Regions from separate parts of the Homo sapiens genome. Here region 2 is linked to region 1. Evidence: fine-mapped expression QTL. Tissue or cell type: tibial nerve. Region 1 holds a variant in brackets; the other region holds the start of a gene. All regions are shown on one strand. Distances are from middle to middle.

The links. PIP is the estimated chance that this variant, and not a neighbour inherited with it, causes the effect.
Region 2: it holds the start of GNB1L, and the variant in region 1 is fine-mapped to the expression of GNB1L in tibial nerve (GTEx, PIP above 0.99).

What each region holds. Positions count from the first base shown.
Region 1 is chr22:19,772,339-19,777,780 of GRCh38, forward strand. It overlaps a transcript of TBX1 not described here. Among named protein-coding and RNA genes, the nearest start is that of TBX1, 14 kb to the left of the region's middle. RefSeq lists a silencer at 4,201-4,702. The variant C/CTT (reference allele first, on the strand shown) is at 2,567.
Region 2 is chr22:19,852,750-19,857,749 of GRCh38, forward strand. GNB1L (G protein subunit beta 1 like) reads right to left here and starts at 2,125. Exons shown (of 8, transcript NM_053004.3): 1 at 2,071-2,125; 2 at 1,694-1,790. It overlaps RTL10 (retrotransposon Gag like 10), which reads right to left and starts at 2,125. Exons shown (of 3, transcript NM_024627.6): 1 at 1,911-2,125; 2 at 1,694-1,790. LOC124905080 (a long non-coding RNA gene) reads left to right here and starts at 2,223. Exons shown (of 2, transcript XR_007068005.1): 1 at 2,223-2,963. RefSeq lists enhancers at 615-1,233, 2,656-3,135.

The DNA.
Region 1 (5,442 bases):
TCTGTTGCCCAGGCTGGAGTGCAGTGGTGTGATCATGGCTCACTGTAGCCTCGAACTCCGGGGCTCAAGCCATCCTCCAGACTCAGCCTCCTGATTAGCTGGGACTACAGGCGTGTGCCACCACACCCTGCTAATATTTTGTAGAGACATATGAGTCTTGCTATGTTGCCCAGGCTGGTCTTGAACTCCTGCCTCTTGAACTCTTGGCCTCAAGTGATCCTTTGGCCTCAGCCTCCCAAATTGCTGGCATTACAAGCGTGAGCCACCGTGCCCAGCCCTCTTCTCAAATAGTTTTTTTTTCCCCTCCGTTTCTGAATTCATCCTTTATCTCAGAATATGTTTTCCGGATTACTCCCCCAAGACAAGCTTTTTTTCTTGTGACATCATCACAGAACGAAGATGGTGACAGCAGCAGGGCCACAAAACAGTCCCCAGTCTACCCAGTTGCTCATGGCTGTGGTTTGGACCTTCAGCCATGAGGCAGTACGTCTTCCCAGGGCAGGGTAGGGACCTTCACCGCGGGGCTGGGTCTCAGGAGCTGCCGGGCGCCCTTCTCCAGCCCGCCTTTGTGATAAGGGACAGAATCGGGGTCACTGGCAGGACACAGGTCCCCTTCCCTGTCGCCTCAGGCTGGTGGGATTCCTGCACCCGAGTGCTGCTGGGGCTGCAGGCGAGGCCTGGGCTACACAGGAAGCCCGGGCACCGCAGAGTGGCCGCTAGCTGGTGGCATTGTTCCTCCACGGATTCAGAGCTTACGAGCACGGGCGTTGAGCTGAGGCAAAATACGGAAACAGCCACTTCCATGCAAATAATCACCCTTCTGATAACAATAAGTCAAGTCTCAAGGGACTAAGAAAAACAAGCAGCTTTATTAAGATGCAGCTGACCGATCTGAAAGCCTGCCTGCTCCGCCACCTCCTGGGAGAGCCTGCAGGGCCCGAGCTCTGGGGACAAGAGCTGCTGCTCAGGCCCCAGAGGAAGGTCTAGGTGGGAAATGGGCCGCCAGGAGGTGGACACCAACACATAGGAGCACATCCCAAGACACCCATCACCCTGTGTGGTGGGTGCTGGAAAGAAACAGCCTAGTTATGAGAGAGACTTGCAACTGGGGGCACCCTAGCACCCCACGGAGGCATTTCCAGGTGGCCCCTCCAGCTTGGCTGTGTGGGCTTCCTTGGAGGACCCTCCCTCCAGGCGGCCAGCCAGAAGGGGCCATCTCCAGGCAGGCACCCCCTTCAGGAGAGCCCATGCCCAGTCACTGCCTGGGAAGCTTACTGCAGGGCTGGCCCCCACCTGCCACTGTCACCTCCTGACCTCCACCTGCTCTCCTGGGTCCTCAGGCCTCACACAGTCCTGTCCTTCTAACAGGTGACTGCAGGATGGAGCCCCAGGCATCTCGGCATCCTGATGCGGTCACTGCCAGGAGGGGAGTGGTCTCAGGGTGGGCCAGACCCCTGGACACCAGCGTGGTCTCCTTCCTGAGCTGCCGAGGGAGATTTGCCTGGCAAAGCCCACCTGGCCCCTCGGCCCTCAGCCGCCGAGTTTCCCTCCTGCAGTGGGAGGTTTCCCACGACTGGAGGGAAGCAGTGGCTATTCCAGTAGTAGCTGTTTCTCATGCACAGGTCTCTTCCCCAGAAAGAATTTGAGCTGCAGGACAGAGATCCTATCACATATATACCCAGAAGGTGATTCAAGGTGAATATTAAAGACTTGGATATCCATTAGGATGATGATGATTTTAAAAAACAAAAACAGAAAACAACACGTGTTGGTGAGGACATGGAGCCCCTGGAAGCCGTCTACACTGCTGGTGGGACTGTAAGATAGTGCAGCTTCTGTGGGGAACAGTGTCATGGGTCCTTGAAAAATTATACAGTTGTTAGGGAGAGTGAAGCAGGAGGACTGCTTGAAGCCAGGAGTTCAAGACCCGCCTGGGCGGGCCTAGGCACCTGTAGTCCCAGCTACTCAGGAGGCTGAGGCAGGAGGATCGCTTGAGCCCAGGAGTTCCAGGCTGCAGTGAGCTACGATCACACCACTCCACGCCAGCCTGAGTGACAGAGCAATATCTTGTCTCTAAAATCAATTAAAATTCTACATAGAACCGTATGTTCCAGGAATTCCACTTCTGGGAAAATACCCAAGAGAATTGAAAGCAGAGTCTCAAAGAGATATTTCTCCACCCATGTTCATAGCAGCATTACTCAAATAGCAAAAGGTGGAGGCGAGCCGAGCGTCCACCGATAAGTGAACGGATCAACAAAATGTGGTGTGTGTGTACCGTGGAGTATTATCCAGCCTTAAAGAGGAAGGGAATTCTGTTACATGCTACAACAGGGATGAACCCTGAGGTCCTTATGCTCCGTGAATTGAGCCGGTCACAAAGGACACATTTTGTACTGTACAATTCCACTTGCATGAGGCACCTCAAGTAGTCAGATTCAAGAAACAGACAGGAGAATGGGGATTGTTAGGGACTGGGGGAGAGGAATGGGGAGTTGGCGTCTAGTGGGGACAGAGGTTCCATTTTGCGTTCATCTGGAGGTGGACGCACAGCATCGGGAATACA[C/CTT]AATGCCACTGAATTGTGTACTTCAACATGGTCACAATGGCACATTCTTTATTTTTTGTAGAGACAGGGTGTCACTGTGTTGCCCAGGCTAGCCTCGAACTCGGGTTCAGGCTCTCCTTCCACCTCGGCCTCCCAAAGTGCTGGGATTATAGGTGTGAGCCACCACACCTGGCCAAATTTGTGGGTTTTTTGGTTTTTATGTTTTTGAAACAGAGTTTCTCCCTTGTCACCTAGGCTGGAGTACAGTGGCGCGATCTTGGCTCACTGCAACCTTTACCTCCTGGGTTCAAGCGATTCTCCTGCCTCAGCCTCCCAAGTAGCTGGGATTACAGGCACCTGCCAACACACCCAGCTAATTTTTTCTATTTTTAGTAGAGACGGGGTTTCACCATGTTGGCCAGGCTGGTCTCGAACTCCTGACCTCAGGTGATCCGCCCACCTCAGCCTCCCAAAGTGCTGGGATTACAGGAGTGAGGCGCTGCGCCCAGCCAAAATTTGTGTTTTTAAATGTATGTTTAACAATTTAAAAATCCTAGATCATCCACAGTTTGCAAAAGCCACTGCTATCCATCTTGGATTGACCAATTCCCTACCTGCCTCTAAAGCGGTGGTTTTTTAACAGGAGCAGTCTTGCCCCCTGGGGTGTTTGACAGTGCCTGGGACACTGGGTGGGGGTGCTTCTGGCATCTGGTGGGTGGAGGTGGGGTATGCTTTTCACCTCCTGCAATGCACGCTCGGAACCACAGGTCCGGAGCCATGGGGCTGCTGTGGCGAGGTCTTCCCACATGGCCGCACCCTGTCTGAAGGAGCTAGTGGTGGGGCCCCGAATATTCTGAGGCCAGGAGCTCCCAAGTCCCACCTGGCATGAAGCGGTGCCCCAGGGCCCTCTCCGCACTCCTCCCCCTGCCCAAGTGGGCCCAGACTCCCCAGTGAGGCCGCATGGCCTGGAGTGCTCGCCTGGAGCCTGAGGGGTCTGGCTGCTGTGAGGTGGGCTTCGAGGGTGGCTGCCAGGCTGTGCTGGAGAGGGCTGGGCATCAGAAGGCTGGTGACAGCCTTGCAGGGAGACGGAGGGTTACCGGAGCCATCCCTGGAGGTGGCCCCTCCAAGTGCTCGGGCCCCAGGCAAGTCCCACCGGCTCCCGAGTGGAAGGTGTAAGCCACGTGGGCACAGGTGGGAGGGAGTTCTCACCACCCATGGCTGCTAGTGCCCCTGAAACCACCTGGAAGTCCCAGCGGCTTCCCCAGGGACAGGCAGTGCTGTGGCCCGTGTCCACCCCAGCTCTGGGGCCTGTGCTCGTGGCTCCGTGTCTGCCCGTGGTCTCCCTCTCTCTCAGGGGTGGTTTCTCTGTCCCTACCCAATATGGTGCTCTATAGCTTTCCTTAGGATCCTAGCTCCTCAGGAGGAAGACGTGTGGCCCCTTGCTCCAGGAAGGCCCAGTCCTCCCTCACTGGGGGTGGGAGGGTAAGGCAAAAGTGCCAAAGTGTCCATCCCATGAATGCAAGACACACAGTGCCTGCTCTAGAAGAGCTCATGTTCCAGCAGGGACAGCTAACACCCAGGGGCCTGCACGGGGTGGAGGGCTCTTCAGAGGCAGGATCACCTCGGAGATGGGTGCAGGGGACCTCGGGCCACCCCAGGGCCAGGCCTGCTTGCCCTGCTTAGGAGCTGGGTCTCCCACTCAGGGAGGGAGGGGTCATGTCTCAAGGGCAGCCACTGGGCCTGAAAAGCAGAACCGCATGTGATCAGTCTGGGTGGGCAAGACTTCAAGAGAGCACGCCTACCCTCAAGGGATGGAAGCAGAGGCTGGTAGCCGACGTCCATGCCAGCCACCAACTCAGAGCCAGCACACTACCCGCATGTGCCTCTGCCAATGAGTGGATGAAAAGCAGCGACCTACAGATGCAGGCAACCTGGATGAGTCTTGACTTTATCTCACGGAGGGAAGGAAGCAGGCTCGGGAGGTGCCGTGCCGCGTGGCTCTGTTTATAAGCTGTCTGGGAAAAGGCAAAACCACAGTACAGAACACAGATCAGCCAGTGCAGGCAGGAAGGGCCAGCACACGGGGTGGGAGGAGCTTCCTGGGTAACGCTCAATCCCATACGCTACAGAGGGCGCATGTTATTGAACATTAAGGTTTTTTTAAAAAATTTTAATTTAATATAATTTAATTATTATTATACTGTTTTAGGGTACATGTGCACAACATGCAGGTTTGTTACATATGTATACATGTGCCATGTTGGTGTGCTGCACCTATTAACTCGTCATTTAGCATTAGGTATGTCTCCTAATGCTATCCCTCCCCCTCCCCCTACCCCACAACAGTCCCCGGAGTGTGATGTTCCCCTTCCTGTGTCCGTGTGTTCTCATTGTTCAATTCCCACCTATGAGTGAGAACATGCGGTGTTTGGTTTTTTGTCCTTGCGATAGTTTGCTGAGAATGATGGTTTCCAGTTTCATCCATGTCCCTATGAAGGACATGAGCTCTTCATTTTTTATGGCTGCATAGTATTCCATGGTGTATATGTGCCACATTTTCTTAATCCAGTCTATCGTTGTTGGACATTTGGGTTGGTTCCAAGTCTTTGCTATTGTGAATAGTGCTGCAATAAACATACGTGTGCATGTGTCTTTATAGCAGCATGATTTATAATCCTTTGGGTATATACCCAGTAATGGGGTGGCTGAGTTCTACTCTTATAAAGAGCGTGCTGGCCTTTCCCATGCCTTCTCGTCTGTTTTGACCCATTCTGGGTATCGGTCCTTTTCGTCTCCCCCTCTCCATCCTCTCTCAGCCCCTTTCACTGGGTTTCAGTGTGCTGGGCACAGGTTCAGGGTGTGTTGTTACTCTTAATTTTTTTTTTTTTTTTTTTGAG
Region 2 (5,000 bases), 80 kb after region 1:
ATAGTAGTAACCTTTCACTGAGTGCCCCATTTGTGCCACCTCCCCCACAGGAGGTTGGTACTAGCATTGTCTTTGAGGCACACAGTGGTGAAGTAACTTGTCTGCAGCCACACACTAACCCATAAGTGGTGGAAGCAGCAAAAACTGGCTGGAGAGACCAGAGGCTTAACTACTATACAGCACGCGATTATAAACTACATTTGTCTGCTGAGTAGGCTCTAGCCGCCCCAAAAACTCTGAACAACGCACAGACCGCGTCGTCATTAGGCTCTTTTACATCCCAGCACCAGGCACACAGCAGGTCCTACCTGCTTCCCCGACAGAGCAGTGAGCCTGCTATTCTCTGCTCCCTCCTGACCCCACATGCTTTCCAAATTCACCTCTCACAACTGAGTGCCACCTGCAGGCAATGCCACCCCCACCCACAAACACCACCTTTCCACAGTCCCCATCCCAGCCACAGCAGAGCATCCCAGCCCCCACCATTGTAAAATCCTGGAACCCCACTTGCTGTCTGCTCCCGCCACTCCAGTCACTTGTGCCCAGGGTCTGGGGAGTCCCAGTCTGATGGCTGGACCCGCCCCTCCTTCTCCACGCAGCAGTCACCTAGGAGGCTCCAGAGCCAGTAGCCAGTTCTATTCCAGTGCAAGGAGCCCTCCTGTAGGGCTCTTACACTCTGCAGCCTAACTCTATCTAGCCCCCTCCCCAGTCTCTCTGCAAACGGAGGCCCACTCACGACCTCCAGGAAACTCTCTGCTTCACCCCACACACAAACGCCACCGGCTCACTGGGAGCACAAGGCCTGCACACACCTTCATCCCACATCTCCTATCTGCTGGCCATCCCCCCTCAGGGTGAGTTCCTCCAGGTACCTCCCAGGGTGGCCTGCAGCACTAGAACCTGCCAGGGCCACTGGCCCTACCTCCACCACCCAAACACTCTGGAATCCCTCAGGTCTGACCCCCCTCTGGGGGGGGGGTCTTCACCTGAAAGCCCAGCCCATGACCCTGGCTTCCCACCTTACTGCAGGATTATACTAAGGCCTGGACGTGAGTCGAGTCCAGTCCAGTCCCTCACTGAGCTCTAAAAAAGCAGTGACCCCGATCCAGGGCCCAGCTCCCACCACCAGCCAAGGTTAGGTATCCAGGTTGCCCACAATGACCACACCCCATGCCCGGGAGCCACAGTGTGCTACCCAGATCTCTGCCTTCCCTTCTTCCCAGTCCCCTACCCTGCCCACTCACCTGCGCACCTGTGTCCCCTGCAGTCTGGGAGAAGGCTTCCCTGCACCAGCCAGCCAGGCCTGCTTTGGGCCTGAGCCTTCCTAACCCTGGGCCGCACTCTCACCATTTTGAGAACCTTAGCCCTCCCACGCCTATCAGTCTGTTGGTCCCCCTACTTTTCTCCCCACACTGCCTGGCATAGAAGACTTTCGGCCCTTCTAGACTGGACAGCACTATCCTAAAGGGGCAGGTACCACGGCGCATGTGTGTTTGCCCCCACAAGGCCAAAGGCAGCACCTGGAACGCTGGAGCCGTTCTCTGCTCTGGGGAGACCCAGGAGCCCCAAGAACAAAACCTGCCCAAAGCCTTAAAGCAAGCTGAGTGCAGACGACTGCACCGCCCGCCCCCCAGCAACCGCCATGCAGGAAATACGAGCTCACAAGGCCCACGGCAACAAGAAGCCCACCCACCTGAGGCTACGCGAATCGCCCGCGAAGAGGGTCCTGGGATCCGTAGCCACAGACCGTGGGACGGGCCTCCCTCTGAGGGCGAGAGTCCAGGCGCCACCTAGAAAGTGGAGAACGAGATCGGCCGCCGTGAGGCCAGGCAAGGAGCGGGCGCGGCTTCCCGAGACTGCGAGAACGGCCCAAATGTCTCCAGGTGCCCCCACAAACCCCCGGCGCGGACCGAGAAACTGAGGCCCGCAGACCGAAGGCACTGCGACCCAGGCTGGGGCTCCGAGTGCCCCTCTGCGGATCAGAAGTCGGGAAAAGACGCAGGGGCGCAGCTCCAGGCCCGCGTGCACGGAGTTCAAGCCGGCCGCCCGGGCTCCCGCCTCCACACTGACCCTCTTGCCGGAGTCGGGAACGCCTGCTCCTAGGAGCGCCGCGCAGCGTCCAGAGACCGATTACATCGCGCAGCCACGCCCCCAGCGTGCGCGCGGCCGCCGTGTACGACCCGGCGCATGCTCCCGGCACGCTCCACGCGCTCCTCCCATCCAGGCCGCGCCTGCGCTGTATGCCGTGTGGCCGCTACCTCGCAGGCTCTCCCGGTCCCTGCTGGCGCGGCAGTGCCGCGCGGTGGGTGATGGGAGAGCGCGCCCATTCCCACGCCGCGCCAAGTGCCACGGGATCAGGTGGGGCCGCGTGTACAGGCGCGAGACGGTCGGGCCAAAGCTGCCCCTCATGATCCCCAGCGGACGGTGCCCGGCGGTCCCTCAGATCCGGGAAATCTGCACCCGGCTGTGGCGTAGACCGAGGGGCCGATGCTGCTTCAGCCCGCCGTTACTGCCCTGGCGTCAGCCAGACACTGGGGTGCTGCTGGGCGTCGAGAGGGCTGCTGCGGGGCCGGGCTAAGCCTGGGGGGCTGCAGGTGTCGGGGTGGATGTGGGCATAGCGGGGCTGCTGGGCCTCGTGAGCGCCCTGGAACGGCGTGCCCGCGGAGTGCCTCTCATCACTCATTGCCAGTGCGGGGAACCTTGTTAGGGCCCGGTTCGACGTAGCTGCAGGCTGGGCGCCAGAGGCAGGGGGCAGGCAGTCCGAGAGGACCCTCTACCTGCATACCTGGGGGCTGCAGGCAGGGCCTCTGGGCCTCCTTGTTGTGGATATAATTGTGTGCTTCCCGACTCAGGCCGAGGCTGGACCCGGAGACGACAGCGAGGGCAGGCTACCAAGCCCTCCCCACAGGGCCGTGCCCAGCCCAAGCCTGCCGAGTCAGCACCCAGATCCTGGGACAAGATAGGTGAGGATGAAGTGGTGGTGCTCTTCTCACTTGCACAAGCCGTCCCACGCCACCTCTCCTCGGCTTCACGGTGCCTAGAGAAGAGGTGGGAGAGGGTGCAGGCGCCCCAGCTCAGGATCTGATGCCTGTGGGCCAAGGACCTGGATGCAAGCCAGGAGTCCTTGGGGCCACGGGCAGGCAGCCGGATTCACCGGAAAGTGACGCTTCTCAAGGGGAACACACACGTAACACACCAGCTCCCTTTCTGCCCTGGTCCAGTGACTCCTTTCATGAAAGCTCTCTGAAATGTTATCTGCATTTACACCCAAACTCACTCACTTTGATCCCTGAAACGCGAATCAAAGGTCACATTGTACCTTCCCTGGGTCTGTGGGGCTTTCAGCAGCCTGGGCCAAAAATAATAAAAGTGGCACCGAGCCAGGAAACGCCTCCTTGAAGTGGGAATGAAATTTGGATTTTTTTCGGTTGTATCTTTCCTAATTGACCTGATAATTTAAACTTCCTCCCTCAAGGGAAAGGTGGGGGTTCCCACAAATTCAGCTTACCTCAGCCTCAAGGCAGCTCAGTCTACAGCTCAGCGCCCATCAGCAGAGTGGGCAGTGGGCCTGTGGAAGAAATGAATCCAACTGAGCCAGAAAAGGCCTTTTTTGGTCCAAATTTTTTTTTTCTTTCAGGCCCTCTCCTGTGTATAACTGTCATGCACCGCATAACAACGTTTTGGTCAACTAGGGACCACATATGTAACTGGTCATCCAGTAAGCTATAGTTATTTTATTATTGAAGAAAGAAAATTTTTAGGCCAGGCGCTGTGGAGGCTCATGCTTGTAATCCCAGCATTTTGGGAGCCCAAGGCGGGCAGCTCATTTGAGGTCAGGAGTTTGAGACCAGCCTGGTCAACATGGTGAAACCCTGTCTCTACCAAAAATACAAAAAATTAGCCGGGCGTGGTGGTATGTGCCTGTAATCCCAGCTACTTGGGAGGCTGAGGCAGGAGAATCGCTTGAACCCAGGAGGCGGAGGTTGCAGTGAGCTGAGATTGTGCTACTGCACTCCAGCCTGGGCAATAGAGTGAGACTCCATCTCAAAAAAAAAGGAAAATGTTTAATATAAGTGTGTTGCAGCCTAAGTGTACAGTGTTTATAAAGTCTAAAGTAGTGTACAATAATGTCTTAGGCCTTCACATTCACTCACCACTCACACCCACAGCAACTTCCAGTCCTGCACCTCTGTTCATGGCAAGTGCCCTAACCAGTTCTATTTTTTATTTTTTGCACTGTACTTTTACTGTACCTTTGCTATGATTAGGTGCACTAATACCACTGTGTCACAATTGCCTACATTGTTCAGTAGAGTCACTGTGCAAGTTTGTAGCCCAGGAGCAACAGGCCTTACCATACAGCCTAGGTGTGTAGTAGGCTCTACCATCTTAGTTTGTGTAAGTTACTCTATGAGGATCCCTCCATGACAAAATCGCCTAGTGACACATTTCTCAGAGTGTATCCCCACAGTTAAGTGACATATGACTGTTTTTTTATTGTGGTAAAATATAGTAACATTTACCATTTTAGCCATTTTTAGGTATACAGTTCAGGAGCATTAAGTACATTCATGCTGTTGTATATCCAGTGATCACTATTTATTTCTAGAACTTTTTCTTCACTCCAGAACATTAACTCCTCTTCCCCTCCCACTCGCAACCCCTGGTAACCATCATTCTATATTCTGTCTCTGTGAATTTAATTACTCTAGGTACCTCATATAAGTGGAATCATACAGTATTTATCATTTTGTGACTGGATTATTTCACTCAACATGTTTTCAAGGTTCATCCACATCGTAGCATGTGTCAGAACTTCCTTCATTTTTAAGGCTGTGTAATATTCCTTTGTACACATTGACCAGATTTTGTTTATTCATTTGTTGATTGACACTTGGGTTGTTTTCACCTTTTGGCTATTGTGAATAATGCTGCTATGAACATTAGTGTACAAGTATATGTTTGAGTCCCTGCTTTCAGTACATAAGAGTGAAATTGCT